2 separate regions of the Homo sapiens genome follow, and region 2 is linked to region 1. The links come from fine-mapping of genetic effects on gene expression. A gene starts in region 1. The other region holds a variant in brackets. All regions are shown on one strand. Distances are between the middles of the regions. Region 1 holds the start of C1QTNF4 (C1q and TNF related 4). Region 2 overlaps CELF1 (CUGBP Elav-like family member 1).

Region 1 (8,330 bases):
TGCGCGTGCGCGCCGCCGAGAAGGCCGAGCGCGGCTCGGGGGGCGCGGGCGGCCCGCGCGCAGGCGCGTCAGCGTCGGCGTCGGCGTAGACTAGGTAGCCGCTGAAGGTGGCGCCGGGCGCGCCTAGCGCGTACTGCGGGGCGCCATGCAGCCGCAGCCACACTGTGTCGCCGTAGTCGAGCTGCAGCATGGCGCTCTGGCTGGCTGCGCGCCGCGCGCCTGGCCGCCGCTGCTCGTCGAAGGCCAGCGCCTGCACCTCGTCGCGGTTTCGCACCAGCATCACCGACAGGCTCTTGTGCGGGGCCTTGCCAGCCGTGAAGGAGAAGAAGTAGGCGCCGGGCACGCGGCAGCGAAACTGGCCGGTGGCCACATCGAAGTCGCCCCCGATGTTCACGTACACCTTGTCGAAGGTCACCGCCATCTCCGACGTGCCCTCCAGGGGGGTGGTGCGTGCCGCCGAGAAGGCCGAGCGCAGCTCAGAGGATCCCGGGCCGGGGGTCGGGCCCAGGGCCCAGCAGGCCGCTGGGCCCAGCAGGCCCAGCAGAAGCGGCAGCATGGCGCCTGGGAGGGAGACGGAGGGGCGAGAGTGGAGTGTTGGCAGGGGCGGCTTCCAAACGCCCGGCTCTCCACCGGGAGACAAGGGTTCTCTTCCCAGCCCTGCCCTTGACCCACAAGTAGGTTTCAATTTTCCTACATCCTTGGATTCTCAAACTCTAGCGAGCCTCACTGTCACTTGGAGGGCGTGTTCAAACATACATAGTTGGGCCCCATCACCAGAGTTCATTCAGTAGGTCTGTGATGGGCCTGATAATTTGCATTTCTTTGTTTTGTTTGTTTGTTTTGAGATGGAGTCTCGCTCTGTGAACCAGGCTGGAGTGTAGTGGCACGATCTCGTTTCACTGCAACCTCCACCTCCCGGGTTCAAGCAGTTCTCCTGCCTTAGCCTCCTGAGTAGCTGACATTACAGGTGCGCACCATCACGCCCAGCTAATTTTTTGTATCTTTAGTAGAGACGGGGTTTCACCATGTTGGCCAGGCTGGTCTTGAACTGACCTCAAGTGATCCACCTGCCTCAGCCTCCCAAAGTGCTGGGATTACAGGCGTGAGCCATCGCGCCTGGCCTTGAAACCCCGCCCCCCCCCCTTTTTTTTTTGAGACGGAGTCTGGCTGTGTCGCCAGGCTGGAGTGCAGTGGCTTGATCTCGGCTCACTGCAGCCTCCACCTCCCAGGTTCAAGCGATTCTCCCGCCTCAGCCTCCCAAGTAGCTGGGACTACAGGCTTGCACCCAGCACACCCAGCTAATTTTTGTATTTTTAGTAGAGACAGGGTTTCACCATGTTGGCCAGGATGGTCTTGATCTCTTGACCTTGTGATCCGCCTGCCTCGGCCTCCCAAAGTGCTGGGATTACAGGCGTGAGCCACCGCGCCCGGCCGAAACCCCTTTCTTAAGTGAAAGCTTGAACACAGACTAGCAGAAACACTCTGGTTAAAGAGGCCTACAGCCCTGTCTGCTGGGCTTGCCCCTACACCTCCCATTTGACACTCAGGGGCCCTGGTAACCCGGGGGATTCAGGGGAGTCTCTGAGTTCCCCTCAGCTCCAGTTGGCTGCATTTTCCTGTGGTTATTTTATGGTCCTTGGTCTGCCACTCACGCAGGCACTGGCTCTCTGTGTCAACGCTCTGCATGACCGTTACTGTTTAAGCCCCATCTGAGCAGGAAAGGAAATCGCTGCTCCCTGACCCCTTTCCTGGCCTCACCAGGGGCCCTTCCTGCACAGAGGAGGCGAGAACAGTTGGGCTTTGAGGTAGCTTCCTCCCCCTTGAAATCAGAGTAAAAGAGAAGGTGACTCCTTTCTCTTTGCTTGGAGGCTGGTTACTCAGAAGAAGGAGTGGCGAGCCAGGGGCTACTGGGGATGGACAGGGACAGCAACAATTCCAGCAGGGCTTTGGCAAGGCTGTGAAGTCAGCAGCTTTGTTCCTTGGGAGTGATGGATTGGAGAGGACAGATAGCCAGATCTGGGTTCAGGTCCTGGCTCTACCACTCACACTGTGAAACCTTGGGCAGGTTCCCTAACTTCTCTGGGCATGGCTTCCTCCATGTAAATGGGGAAGAGACCTCACACACAGGCTTGCTGTGGGGGTGTGCTGAGATAGGTGTGAACATGGTTTGTCAACGGCAGTGCTGAGGTGTGCAGATGCTTCTGTCGGTTGCCCTGACAAAAGTGATCTGGTCCAGTTCTTGACGTAAGGGTTTAGGGACTCAGTCACTCCTACCCCTGAGAGCTTGGTGAAGGCACTGCTTAACTCAAAGGAGTCACTCTCTGATGTAGGGATTCCATCCTGCTTCCTAGTAGGGCACGTGCTTTGGGGCTTGAATACCCAAAAGCCCTGATGTGGAAACAAAACAGGAAAGAAATGAGCTGGAGACAGCCTGGGATGTGGGCTGCTTTAGAAAATGCCCTGTATGTGTAGCTCTGTGTCTCTTAGAGACAGCAGGGACCTGCTGAGAAGGGTTGTCAGGTGTAGATGTGCAGAACGTCCCAGCTAGAATCTAGCTCACACTCCACATGTTAGAGCAGCACCTGGCGTAAAGTATGCCACCTTCTCATTCTCATACTAAAGACCCCAAGTTGCTAGCCAACTGAATGCTGTCTCCTTCCAGAGGAGGTGCTTTTTGTAATTCTCACAAAGGTGTCCTATGGATTAGTTAGGTGTCCCTTGGTTAGGACAGGGAGGAGGGAAGGGGCCATCCACAGTGGTGAAGATGGCACCTCACAAGTGTCCAGTGCATTCCCTTTTACAAAGTTCTTTTAGACACATGGTCTTGGCAAACCTACAAGACAGGTGGGCCGTCTCCCATTTTATAGATGAGAAAGCTGAGGCCCAACAAGGGAAAGCATTTTGGCCCAAGGTCACCCATGGAGCACTGAGGTTTTTTGACTCAAATTCCGTATGCCTTCCTGTCACTCTTCCCTCCTAGACACAGGTATGTCCAGCCAATTTGTTCTGTGCCTCAGTTTACCTTTTTGCAAAACTAGGAGAGGAGATCAGAGGAATGAGTCTTGGGATCCAGGGTGAGGAAGACAGAAAGCAAAACCAAACAAAAGCAAGCAAACACATTCTCTAGTGTTTTGTCTTCTGGGAACACGGAAAACAGCTCAGCTTTTCCATACCGCTGCTTTCCTAGTGGGTCCTGCCCCAGAAGCAGCTGCCCAGCAACCTCCTGACCAAGGCTGGTGCACCCCACCAGTGCCAAGGGTCTTCCTGTGCACCCAGTACCCAGCCTCCGTTTCACCCACACTGCCCAATTCCCAGATCCCTGGATCCTCGTCCTTCCCTGAACCCCCTTCCCTGAGCAGGTCAGAGGTGTGGGAGGGTGTGTCAGGTGGGTGTCATAGCTCCAGGGAAGGAAATGGCTGTTCCTGGCTCTGTCCAGGTGGGGTTCAAAATAGTCATCTTCAAAGAGAAAAACTGGGACACAGAGCTGGAGAGACCCAGAGCCCCGGAGCCAAGGCGGGAGGTGCAGCGATGTCAGGCTGAGGGGATCGCAGAGTTCCCCCTTGCCCTGCCACTCACCAGTTAACCCTTCCCTCAAGCCCTGCCAGAGCCCCCTCCCCAACCTACCTTGAAAGCCCCTCATCCTTCCAAGAAGTCCCACTTTCACAGAAGCCAATTAATCCTTATTTTTAAAAAACAAAAACCAATCCCTCTCCCCCGAGACCTTCCCTCCATCCATCCATCCCTTTGGAATGAAAGCCCTTGTGCCTGTTTCACGAAAAGGCTCCCAGGTCCTCCTTTCAAGGAAAAAGGACCCAATTTCCCCGCGCCTCCCCAGCCCTCGCTTCCAGTAAAGGGGGAACCTCGGCTCCCTGCCTCCCCTCAGCTGCCCTCACCTGGCTGGGGGCGGCGGTCGAGTCGGGTTCGGTCTGAGCCCGCGATCTGGCTCCGGGCTGCGGGCTGCGGGCTGCAGGCTGCAGGCTGCGGGTGCCGGGCTGCGCGCTGACCGCCCGCGCTGCGGCAGGGGCGGCGGGGGCTCCGGCTGCTTTTCCCGGCTCTGAGGCGGCAGCGGACAGGGTGCTGGGGCCAGGGGCCGGGCGTGGGGAGGCGTGAGGGAAAGGGAAGGTCAGCTAGAGAGGGAGCCGAGCGAGAGCGAAGAGGCGGGGGAGAGACGGGAGGGGGAGAGGAGGGGAGTAGGGGAGAGGGAGGGGCGAGCTGCGGGGCCTAGGGGCTCCGCACGGAGTCTGCGCCGAGCACTGGACCCTTCCTCATCTGTGACCTCCTTAGAGCTTCGTCCTCTGGGTCTAGAGAGCAGGCATCATTAATCTGAGCAGTTGGGGAAACTGAGGCCAGAGGCAGCAGCTAACGCGGGGTGGCCCAGAGCGCTCTACAGTCCAGCTTCCTTCCTAGTGTGGGGAGAGAGGGCTAGAGCTGGACTCAGAGGCTGGACTAGCCTTTGGGCTGCAAGGACAGTGGAAGGTGAGATTTTGGCTGGGACAGATGTCCAAGCTAAGTGGCCTTGGGGGAGAGGTCTGAAGGAAGAGAAGGATAAATGGGTCAATGTTGCCAGTAAAGGAAGAGCTGAAAATAACCTAGTTTTTCCTCCTCACCTCCAAATTGGAAAATGCCCACGGTCGGTTAGGAAAGAGGGAGAAGGGAGTCTGCAGGCATCAGAGGGGCAGCCTGCGTTCCCCGGGGTGAGGGGCAGTAAGGAGGAGAGTCCTTGGGGCAGAATGGAATTTTCTGCTGGGAAGGTTGCTCCTGCAAGAAGGGACAGGATTGAGAGGGCAATAGGTGGGGAAGAAAGGCCTCTGGAGAGGGAAACTGATGCCCTGCCTCGCTGGGGCCAGGCTAGCAAGAGTCCAGCAGGGCACCCGGGCTGGGAACAGCGGTCTTCCCATGGTAATACTCACCAGAGGCACTAGTGCTGGCCTCTACTCTGGGCTTCGAGCCCGTGGGATGGGGGCTCAGACTCCCTTTCTCTAGGCTGCTGTTCTCTCCCCTGACGGCTGTAGAGGTGACGACACTGCCTGGCACTCAGTAGATGCTGACTGAGTGGATGACTTTTGAAGAGCTCTACTTTCAGCAGCCAAGAGCTGGTGCCCTCTGCCTGGCCCTGGTTGACTCCAGAGCCATGGGCTCTAATTCTGCCTCTGCTGCAGGTCTGCTCTGTGGTCCCTGAGAGGCCTGGACCCCTGCAGAACCCCCGTCCTCTGGAGCTTTCCTTTTGGAGCTCTCAAAGTTTACCCCACCCCAGTTAATCTATTTGTCTCTAGGAAGATGTTGGTAGAGGTGATTGGCTCTGCTTCAAGGGTGTTAGGTGAATGATGGAATGAATTAACGAATATGTGCCAGAATAGAAAGGAATGAATGGAGGTGTTTTGGGCTGGATAATGAGGGTATTTGGTGACAGAGGGTGAAGCACCTGTCTAGCCCTTGTCAGATCACAACTGTCTCTTTCACCAACTTGAAAAGCTTGGGCCACAGGACTGTGGGGAGGACAAGAAGCAGGGTAAGGGTGGGATGAGCCACACAGGGATGTCGAAGGAGAGCTGGGGGATGCCAAAAGCCAACCTATGGCAATCTATGGCCCTTCTTAGGGCCATGGGCCCCTTCTGGATGAGAAGAGTGGAGCTGCTCTCCTGAGGGTGATTCCAATGGTGGGAGGGGAGGGGAGGGGAGAAGGTATATTATAGGATAATATAATCTCAGTTGAGGTTTGGTTCAGGCTGGGATTTGACACTCCCTGGATCCACAAGAGTTCTCACCAGAGAAGTGAGGGTTGAGGTAGAGATGGGTGGCTGGGGCAGATGACATCAGGATTTGCATCAGGGGACTGGGATAGGGAGGAAGCCACTGGGAAAGGGATATAGAGAAAGATGATGCCATGAGCTGGTGGGTGTAAGGCAGATGGGTGGGCTCCAGAATGGGAGTTAAGAAGAGGTGGCAGCAGGATCCAGAGAAAAGCCCTAGGCTGGTTATAGTCCCTGCTCCCTCCTCTCTTGTTTTGCAGCCACAATTTTATTTATTTTTGAGAGAGGGTCTTGCTGTGTCACCTGGGCTGGAGTGCAATGGTATGATCTTGGCTCACTGCAGCTTTGACCTTGCGGGCTCAAGTGATTCTCCCACCTCAGCCTCCCAGGTAGCTGGGACTACAGGTGCAGGTCACCATGCCTGGCTAATTTTTTTTAAAATTTTTTGTAGAGACGAGGTCTCACTCTGTTGCCCAGGCTGGTCTTAAACAACAATTATTTTATTTATTTTTTAATTGAGACGGGTATGGCTGGGCATGGTGGCTTACGCCTATGATATTAGCACTTTGGGAGGCCAAGGTGGGAAGATCGCTTGAGCTCAGAAGTTTGAGACCACTCTGGGCAACAGAGTGAGACCCCATCTCTCTCTCTCTTTTTTTTTTTTTTTTCTGAGACAGACTCTCGCTCTGTTGCCCAGGCTGGAGTGCAATGCTGCGATCTTGGCTCACTGCAACCTCCGCCTCCCGGGTTCAAGCGATTCTCCTGCCTCAGCCTCCTGAGTACCTGGGATTACAGGAGCGCGCCACCATGTCCGACTAATATTTTGTATTTTTAGTAGAGACGGGGTTTCACCATGTTGGTCAGGCTGGTCTTGGAACTCCTGACCTCGTGATCCGCCCGCCTTGGCCTCTCAAAGTGCTGGGATTACAGGCGTGAGCCACCGCGCCCAGCTGTCCCCATCACTTAAAAAAAAAGTTAAAAAAATTAACATTAAAATATATATAAATTGAGACGGGTTCTTTTTTCTTTTCTTGAGATGGAGTTTTGCTCTTGTTGCCCAGGCTGGCGTGCAATGGAGCAATCTTGGCTCACCGCAACCTCCCGCTCCCAGGTTCAAGTGATTCTCCTGCCTCAGCCTCCTGAGTAGCTGGGATTACAGGTATGCACCACCACCCTGGCTAATTTTGTATTCTTAGTAGAGATGGAGTTTCTGCATGTTGGTCAGGCTGTTCTCAAACTCCTGACCTCAGGTGATCCGCCCGCCTCAGCCTCCCAAAATGCTGGGATTTCAGGAGTGAGCCACTGCGCCTGGCTGAGATAGGTTCTTACTCTGTCACCCAGGCTGGAGTGCAGTGGCACGATCTTGGCTCATTGCAGCCTGGGCTTAAGTGATCCTCCCCCGTCAGCCTGCCACCACGTGGCAGCTAATAAACAACAATAATTTTTATTTATTTTTATTTTTTGAAATGGAGTTTCACTCTTGTCACCCAAGCTGGAATGCAATGGTGCGATCTCGGCTCACTGCAACCTCCGCCTCCTGGGTTCAAGTGATTCTCCTGCCTCAGCCTCCTGAGTAGCTGGGATTACAGGCGTATGCCACCACACCAGGCTAATTTTTGTATTTTTAGTAGAGATGGCGTTGGCCAGGCTGGTCTTGAACTCCTGACCTCAAGTAATCCACCTGCCTCGGCCTCCCAAAATGCTGGGATTACAGGCGTGAGCCACGGTGCCCAGCCAACAACAATAATTTTAATAGCAGGTTCCTTTCACTGAGTGTAGTAGATGCTGTCAGTGGCCCACCCACACCTCCAGGCCTACCAGGAGGGCACCCACAGACAGTTCCTGACCAGGCGCCTACTTCCTGTGTCCCTCCTGAGGGCATTTTCAGCTATGGGAGTTAGTGTGGGGCAGGCCCAAAGGGCTGTAGAGTTAATACCCCCAGAGCAACCATCAGCCAATGGTCCAGAGTTAGGGGTAAATACCCCAGCTTTCTGGTCCCTCGATGGGAGCATTCCAATTCCCAATTCCAGGTCATGTTTCAGACTCAGAGAGACTCCAGCAGAGTTAAGTTCTCCATGGTGAAAACCCACTGGTATCTGTGCGCTTTTTTTTTTTTTTTTGAGACGGAGTCTCGCTCAGTCGCCCAGGCTGGAGTGCGGTGGCGCGATCTTGGCTCACCGCAAGCTCCGCCTCCCGGGTTCACGCCATTCTGCTGCCTCAGCCTCCTGAGTAGCTGGGACTACAGGCGCCCGCCACCACGCCCGGCTAATTTTTTTTTTTGTATTTTTAGTAGAGATGGGGTTTCACTGTGTTAGCCAGGATGGTCTCGATCTCCTGACCTCGTGATCCACCCATCTTGGCCCCCCAAAGTGCTGGGATTACAGGTGTGAGCCACTGCGCCCGGCCTATCTGTGCACTTTATTCTGTTTCCTCTCTTTGTCTCATTTCCCCGCTCGCTCACTCCGCTTCTTGGGATCACAACTCTCTCCTTCACCAGCTTGAAAAGCTTGGGCCCCAAGACTATGGGGAAGACAAGAGGCATGGTAAGGGTGGGATGAGCCACACAGGGATGCCGCAGGA
Region 2 (8,330 bases), 69 kb before region 1:
CAGCCTGGGTCAGTGAGAACCAATCTCTTCCTGCGCTCCCCCCCGACCCAAAAAAGGCTAAAATTAATTCTGCTTTCAATATCTTCAGTAAATAGTCTGGTACTAGTGGAGATAAACTAGTAATTTTAGAGATGTTTCACAAACTTGTTACTTGGCTTGCTGTTCTTTACCACCAATAAATGAACTAGAGGGCCGGGCGTGGTGGCTCACGCCTGTAATCCCAGCACTCTGGGAGGCCAAGATGGGCGGATCACGAAGTTAGGAGATCGAGTCCATCCTGGCTAATACAGTGAAACCCCATCTCTACTAAAAATACAAAAAAATTAGCCGGGCATAGTGGCGGGCGCCTGTAGTCCCAGCTACTCCGGAGGCTGAGGCAGGAGAATGGCGTGAACCTGGGAGGCGGAGTTTGCAGTGAGCCGACGTCGTGCCACTGCACTCCAGCCTGGGCGACTGAGAGAGACTCCGTCTCCAAAAATAAAAAATAAAATAAAAAATAAATGAACTAGTACAGTTGATGGTGATCTGCAAAACCAAAATCATATAGTTATTTTCATAAGGAAATTCTAAAATGAAAATGGGTTAGACTGATTCATAATTTAATAATCTCAAATAACAAAGTGTGCTAATAAAATAGACAAATATTTACTACAAACCCACAATGTACCCTATACCTAGACTCTAGAGTCATACCACTGCTTTCTAATCCCAGTTTTGCTGCTTACTAGCCAGGTAACTGGGGAAATTGTTTAACTTCTTCATAAATACCTCTGTTTCTTCATGCACAAAATGGTTACACAAACAGTATCTACCTTACAGGATATTTGTTAGAATTAAATTTATACATGTAAAGCATTTAGAATAGTGCCTGACACATAGAAAGTGCTCAATAAACATTTGCTACTATTATTATTCTGGGCACCAAGCTTGGTGTTTATGGTGGAAAAGAATGAGTCCCAAAAAATTTCAGCCTGTTACATGATGATTCTATCTCTTCAAAATAAAGTACCTGATCTTAAGATGTACTGTACAACGCTCAATGGTTATGTTACTCAAAGACAACAGGTTCATCTGTTTACTGAGCTAGAAACATAGTGTGTAGTTTCACTTTTTAAAATGCAACAGCTATGCTGATTTTTTTTTTTTTTTGACACGGGTTTTGCTCTTGTTGCCCAGGCTGGAGTGCAATGGCATGATCTCAGCTCATCACAACCTCCATCTCCCGGATTCGAGAGATTCTCCGGCCTCAGCCTCCCGAGTAGCTGGGATTACTGGCATGTGCCACCAAGCCTGGCTGATTTTTTTGTATTTTTAGTAGACACGGGGTTTCTCCATGTTGGTCAGGCTGGTCTTGAACTCCCGACCTCAGGTGATCTGCCTGCCTCGGCCTCCCAAAGTGCTAGGATTACAGGTGTGAGCCACCTTGCCCAGCTGAAATTTTTTTTATCATTAACACTTGAAGTAGGCCGGGCATGGTGGCTCAAGCCTGTAACCCCAGCACTTTGGGAGGCCAAGGCAGGTGGATCACCCGAGATCAGGAGTTGGAGACCAGCCTGGCCAACATGGTGAAACCCCATCTCTACTAAAAATACAAAAATTAGCTGGGCATGGTGGTGGGCGTCTGAAGTCCCAGCTACTACTACGGAGGCTGAGTCAGGAGAACCCGGGAGGCAGAGGTTGCAGTGAGCTGAGATTGTGCCATTGCACTCCAGCCTTGGTGACAGAGCAAGATTCTGTCTAAAACAACAACAACAACAACAACAAAACGCCAGGCACAGTGGCTCAGGCCTGTAATCCCAGCACTTTGGGAGGCCAAGGTGGGTGGATCACCTGAGGTCAGGAGTTCGAGACCAGCCTGGCCAACGTGGTGAAACCCCATCTCTACTAAAATACAAAAATTAGCCAGGTGTGGTGGCATGCGCTTGTAGTCGCAGCTACTCAGAGGCTGAGGCAGGAGAATTGCTTGAACCTGGGAGGTGGAGGCTGCAGTGAGCTGAGTTCGTGCCACTGCACTCCAGCCTGGGCAACAGAGCGAGACTCCATCTCCAGAAAAAAAAAAAAAAAAGCAAACTTGAAGTAATAAAATAGGCTTCATTTATTTAAAAAAAAAATTGGGTACCTGAGATTATTCCAAAATATTTCCTAGCAGGAGGGGGAAGTGAATAGGTAAGAATTCTGGCAGCAATAGGCTGACAGATCTTGCACCTCCAACTGGGCCTGTTAGAGTCCAGTATATCTTCATTATGGATTACCAAACCACTTGTTCTGAGAACACTTATTTATGTATAAACATTTATTCATTCCTTCCATCAAACCAAAAAAAAAATTTCTTTCATGAAGCTTTCAAAATGGACACACTGGAAAAATATAAACTAATAAAATGAGACCAGGGAAGTTATAAATTTTAAAAAAGGCCAAGAACAAAAAGAAAGCTAGAATATAGGTGTGCTAATCAGAGTGTCACTTACTGAGGCTGAGCTGTAAAATCAAAGAGCTGCCACTGATTTTAATCTCCAATGACAGGCTCTACATAGGGTGCACAATGATTCATAGTATAAATGGGAAAACATTAGGACAGTAAAATGAGAAGGGCACTAAGAATAGCCAAGAAAGAGAAGATGAAGCAGATATAATGCCACACTCAAAAGAATTTGGAAAGTCAGTAAATATACAGGATCCAGGAGAGGCTAAGCACCAGGTCCTAGACCCTAAACAAATAAGCATCCAAAACCTACAATGCACAAGGTGCAGAAGAGATCCCTAAGTGATTCAGAGCCAGAATACATCAGTGTATAGTCACACAGAACTCTGCATCCATACCACACAGCCACAGAAGAAGCTGCCTCAATCAAGGTGTTTCTCCAGCATTTAATAACGTCCTTTCCTCTCCTCATTGACTACAGTTACAAATAGTATGGGCAGAGAACTGTCTCATCCCCACTCAGCTGACAAGTTCTATTCCCAACACTGCATGCTTATGACTCATGAGGGGATGGGGGAGGGGAGTGAAAGGAAACTGTAAAACAAAGCAACAAACTTGAATTTAGACTTACACTGACCAGGAGTAAGAATTCATCACTGTTTAATTAGAATATCTCATAACAAACCAAGAAAGTATCCTTTTAAAATACAGTAACAAACCCAGTATCTTCTGAAAATAACCTGAAATTTGTCTACATGTCATGTCTTCTGCTATTCCTTAAACAGACATGACACCAAAAGGCATTACAAGGCCTCTGTAAGGCCAAACTTTACAAAGCACTCAAACAGCGCAAACAGCATAGGTTGCTGTGGGGCCCAAAGCAACAGGGCATTCCCCACAGTTCCTTTCCTGGCAGACAGCGAAGTCAACACACTTAACCCCTACTGCACTCTTTCAAGATGTGCACTAAATCATTTCTTAAAGGGGTGGAGGTGCCTCATCTTTTTATACTCAAATTTTATGTCAAAAAATTTGAGTGCCAGGAAAGGAATTCAATACCACCCCAAGAGCTGATCTTTGTGACCTGTAACAAAACAAAGAGGAAAAAAAAAACACTACCACTTCAACAAGGTATGTTTCTAAGGGAACCCAAAGACCATTTCTGACATCACATTTCCCTGTTTGGTACCCTCTCGCCAAGACGGTATTTTGTTAAATACAAATCTTGTCTCCTCACCCCATCCCTAACAACCTGAAGCATTCTCTACAATTTACAATTGACAAACCTGAACACAGCAAAACAACAAAGACAAACGAGTCACCTCTTTCACTTGAAAACCTCAGTCCTCCACAGAGACGCACACAGACAGACAGATGGATGCACGTAAGAACACAAACTGTGTGCCCTGGCTGAGTCCTGAGCAGGTCTGAGCCGGTGCGGGTGCCAAAGGGTGGCCACACGGCCTAGCTAGTGGGCTGCTCCTGCTGTTGCTGTACAAATATAGCAAGCTAAAAAGTGGAACAGCAGCTTCAGCAGAACAGATTCTGCTCCGTGCTCAGAGAGGGAGGAGCAGGGAACTGAACAGCTTTACCCATACATGGTTGCTGAAAGGGGGCCATTAGTGAAAGCCCAATTATCTCACACACATGCATTCTGTTCACATGCTCCAGACAAAAAACAGAAACACACAGGCTGGTACTTGAAATAAGGTTTGAGATATTCTATTTCAGTCAAGGAACTTCCAAATAATTTCAGTCACTGACACCAAGAATCCCTCAGCCACGGGAAATGGAAAAGACATTTGAAAACCTTTACTAGGTCAGATTCTTCCCAGATCAGCAGTAGTGGTGAGGCTCAATTTATCATTTAAATCCTAAAATTTAACATGCAAAAAAAGGTTATTCTCCATTCGAGTGAACAATGTTAACTTTCACTAGTTCCTTGCTGCTTTCAGAATGAAGGTCTCATTCCAACTGTGTATGTTTTGAGCTCTTTTTTATTTTATGGTTGATACAAGTTAAAATAAACTCTAATATAATTTTTAAAATCTATGTCTGAGGATGATGGCTTATATAACCAGAAGCCAAATATTTGTGTTCCAAAAATTATTTTACTTAGAACAATTCATTTAGATTCACTTCAATGTGAAGTATGTGAAAAGCTTAATTGCTGACCAGAGTGAATTTTCCAACAATAAGAAATGCATGGCTGATTGGCTCAAATGATTCTATTCTTCAGCCCTTACTGAAGTACTTAGTGCATACCACCTATGTAATTTTATTCCCCCCTTA[T/C]AGAGATGGGGTTTCACCATGCTGCCCAGGCGGGTCTCAAACTCCTAGGTACAAGTGATCCACTCACTTCGGCTTGCCAAAGGGCTGGGATTACTGGCATGAGCCACCAAGCCCAGCCTGGTTATGTATTTATTCGGTATCATAGGGGCTACAGCACAAATCAAAACCATAGTATCAGTGACCTCCAATCTAATTCCTAGATGAGATTAACATGAGATATTAATAATAAAGGCAGACAGTACATGACTACTGCACTAAAGCGTGGGGTACAAACTATAAATGCTATACACATTAAGAGAAGAGAGGCTGGCCTTGATAGCTCACATGTATAATCTCAGCACTTTGGTAGGCCAAGGTGGGTGGACCACTTGAGCCCAGGAGTTTGAGACCAGCCTGGGCAATGTGGCGAGAACCCGTCTCTATCCACAAACAAACAAAAAAACAAACAAAAAAAAAAAAGGAAGAAAGAAAAGAGAGAAGAGAGACTGAGAACAGACAGACCTAGACTTTCTTGCTTATCCCACCTACCAGAACTCTCATTAAGGGCACCTGCGCACCAGGAGTGGTAGCTCACGTCTGTAATCCCAGCACTTTGGGAGGCCAAGGTGGGCAGATCACCTCAGGTCCGGAGTTCGAGACCAGCCTGACCAACAGGGAGAAACCCCGTCTTTACTAAAAATACAAAATTAGCCAGGTGTGGTGGTGCATGCCAGGTGTGGGGGTGGCTGAGGCAGGAGAATCGCTTGAACCTGGGAAGCGGAGGTTGCCGTGAGCCAAGATTGTGCCATTGCACTCCAGCTTAGGTAACAAGAGCAAAACTCTGTCTCAAGGAAGAAAAAAAGAAGGCACCTGCGATATCTTAAATGTGAAGAATACAGAATTTGAACAAGATGATTTCTAAGATCCCTCCATTTCTGAAACTCTGAGTGTGGTTTCAACCTGAAATGTTTCATAGTATGAGATTAATACCACACTGCTTATGGAAGCAAAATTATAGTTTTTGCCTACTTTAGAGAAAACATATTCTAAACTAAGATAAAAATAAATTCAGACCATAACTCAGCATCCACTGTAACATTTCTCATGTAACACTTTCAGGAAAATGTTCTTCCATCTGAGACATTTCTGCCTAGCCTGTTGAATAAATTTTAAACCACTATTAAGAAAAAACAAAAACAAAAACCCTGTCACAGGGAAATAGAATGGTGGAACTAGAAATGTTTATGCTGATATAACTATGAGATCCTTGATTATAAAACACTGCTAAGTTAACCAGTCATCAAAAGGAGTTCCAGGCCGGGCAGTGGTGGCTCGTGCCTGCAATCCCACGATGGATCACCTGAGGTCAGGAGTTCAAGACCAGCCTGGCCAACAAGGTGAAACCCTGTCTCTATTAAAAATACAAAAATTAGCTGGGCGTGGGGGCGCGTGCCTGTAATCCCAGCTACTCAGGAGGCTGAGGCAGGAGAATCACTTGAACCCAGGAGGCAGAGGTTGCAGTCAGCCGAGATTGTGCCACTGCACTCCAGCCTGGGCGACAAGAGCAAAACTCCGTCTAAAAAAAAAAAAAAGCTTCAAAGAAAAAAGCACTGCCTAGCTCCTATCCATTACTGAGTACACAGCAGGATTCCAGCAGTAGAGGCACATTCATGTCCCATAAAACAGACATGCAAGTATTCAACATGTTATTAAAAGCCTCTTAACACTAAACATAAGGAGACCTCATCTCTACAGAAAGAAGTAAAAAATTAGCCGGACATGGTGGCACGTGCCTGTAGTCCCAACTACTCAGGGGGCTGAGGTGGGAAGATTCCTTGAGCCCAGGAGGTCAAGACTGCAGTTAGCCGTGATCGTGCCACCGCACTCCGGCCTGGGTGACAAAGTGAGACACTGCCTCAAAAAACAAAAAAAATTAAGTAAAAGCCTCTTAAGTAAAAGCCTCTTAACTGGGCCACATGCAGTGTTTCACCCCTGTAATCCCAGCACTTTGAGAGGTCAAGGGAGAGGATCACTTGAGATCAGGAGTTCAAGTACACCCTGGGCAACACAGACCCTGTCTCTACAAAACTTAAAAAAAAAATTAAGCCTCTTCATTGTATATACTGGCTTATTCATTGTATATACTGACTTCATTGTATACACTGTATTTAATTTTTTAAGAATCTGAGCAGTCCTATTACAGCAACTTTGACTTCCCAAAGAGCAGTTTACTGTGAATTAATATGCTTTTTTCGTGTTTAAGATCACAGCTTTAATTACCTGTATGTTCTCTACTAAAAATACTTGTGTGAAGGCAACTAAGTAAAAATAACACAAAGCAGGCCAGGTGTGGTGGCTCACGCCTGTAACCTCAGCACTTTGGGAGGCCGAGGCAGGTGGATCACCTGAGGTGAGGAGTTCAAGACCAGCCTGGCCAACATGGTGAAACCCCGTCTCTACTAAAAATACAAAAATTAGCTGGGCGTGGTGGTGCATGCCTGTAATCCCAGCTACTCCGGAGGCTGAGACAGGAGAATGGGTTGAACCCGAGAGGCGGAGGTTGCAGTGAGCCAGGATCACACCATTGCACTCTGGCCTGGGTGACAAGAGTGAAAATCTGTCCCCCATCCCCCCACCCCTCCCAAAAACAAACACACAGCAATACACCACAGTTGTGTACATGAAAAGGAATTGCTCCAAGTATAACCTCAAAATCAAAATGACTATAAACACGTAAAGTATGGCCTTTGATATGTCAGTTCTCCTCCCTTATTTCCTCAAGAGAAATACGGGATTGGACTAGATCGGGGTCCATATGTATGGCCCATTGACATTTCATAAATTCAAAAAACTTCCTTATACTATGTGTAAAACTCTACCTCTGTATGCATTTATAAGGAAATGGATTCACAACTTTTACCAGATTTTCAGTTTAAGGACTCAAGACAACAATATACAGTTATTCCATCTCACATTTTTTTAAAAAGTTAAAGTTTGGCCAGGCACAGTGGCTCACATCTGTAATACAAGCACTTTGGGAGGCCGAGGTGGGAGGACTGTTCATTGAGGCCAGGAGTTTGAGGCTGCAGTGAGCTATGATTGTGCCACTGCACTCCAGCATGGAAAAAAGCAAGATCCTGTCTCTTAAAAAAATAAAAATAAAAATTGGGAGGTCGAGGCAGAGGTATCACTTGAGGCCAAGAGTTTGAGACCTGCCTGAGCAATACAGTGAGACCCCATCTCCACAAAAAAACAAAAGCCACAAAAATTAGCCAGGCATGATGGCACCTGCCTGTGGTCCCAGCTACTCAGGAGGCTGAGGCAGGAGGATCATTTTGATTCCAGGAGTTCAAGGCTGCAGTGAGCTATGATCACGCCACTGCACTCCAGCCAGGCCAACACAGTGAGACCCTGCCTCAAAAAAAAAAAGAAAGGTAAAGCTTCCAGCTTTTACTTTTATATCTGTCTCCCAGGCTAGAGTCCAGTGGCAGGATCACAGCTCACTGCAGCCTCAACCTCCTGGGCTGGAGTGATCCTCTCACTTCAGCCTCCCAAGTATCTGGAACTGAGTACAGATGTGTGCCACCTCACCCAGTTTATTTTACTTTTTTTTTTTTTTTTTTGAGACAGAGTCTTG

Evidence for each region. PIP is the estimated chance that this variant, and not a neighbour inherited with it, causes the effect.
Region 2: its variant is fine-mapped to the expression of C1QTNF4 in whole blood (INTERVAL, PIP 0.97).

Annotation. Positions count from the first base shown.
Region 1 is chr11:47,590,255-47,598,584 of GRCh38, forward strand. It overlaps C1QTNF4 (C1q and TNF related 4), which reads right to left and starts at 4,157. Exons shown (of 2, transcript NM_031909.3): 1 at 3,894-4,157; 2 at 1-561. The coding sequence starts at 556.
Region 2 is chr11:47,520,780-47,529,109 of GRCh38, forward strand. All of the region lies in intron 1 of CELF1 (CUGBP Elav-like family member 1), which reads right to left. Among named protein-coding and RNA genes, the nearest start is that of CELF1, 28 kb to the right of the region's middle. RefSeq lists a silencer at 4,059-4,118. The variant T/C (reference allele first, on the strand shown) is at 4,715.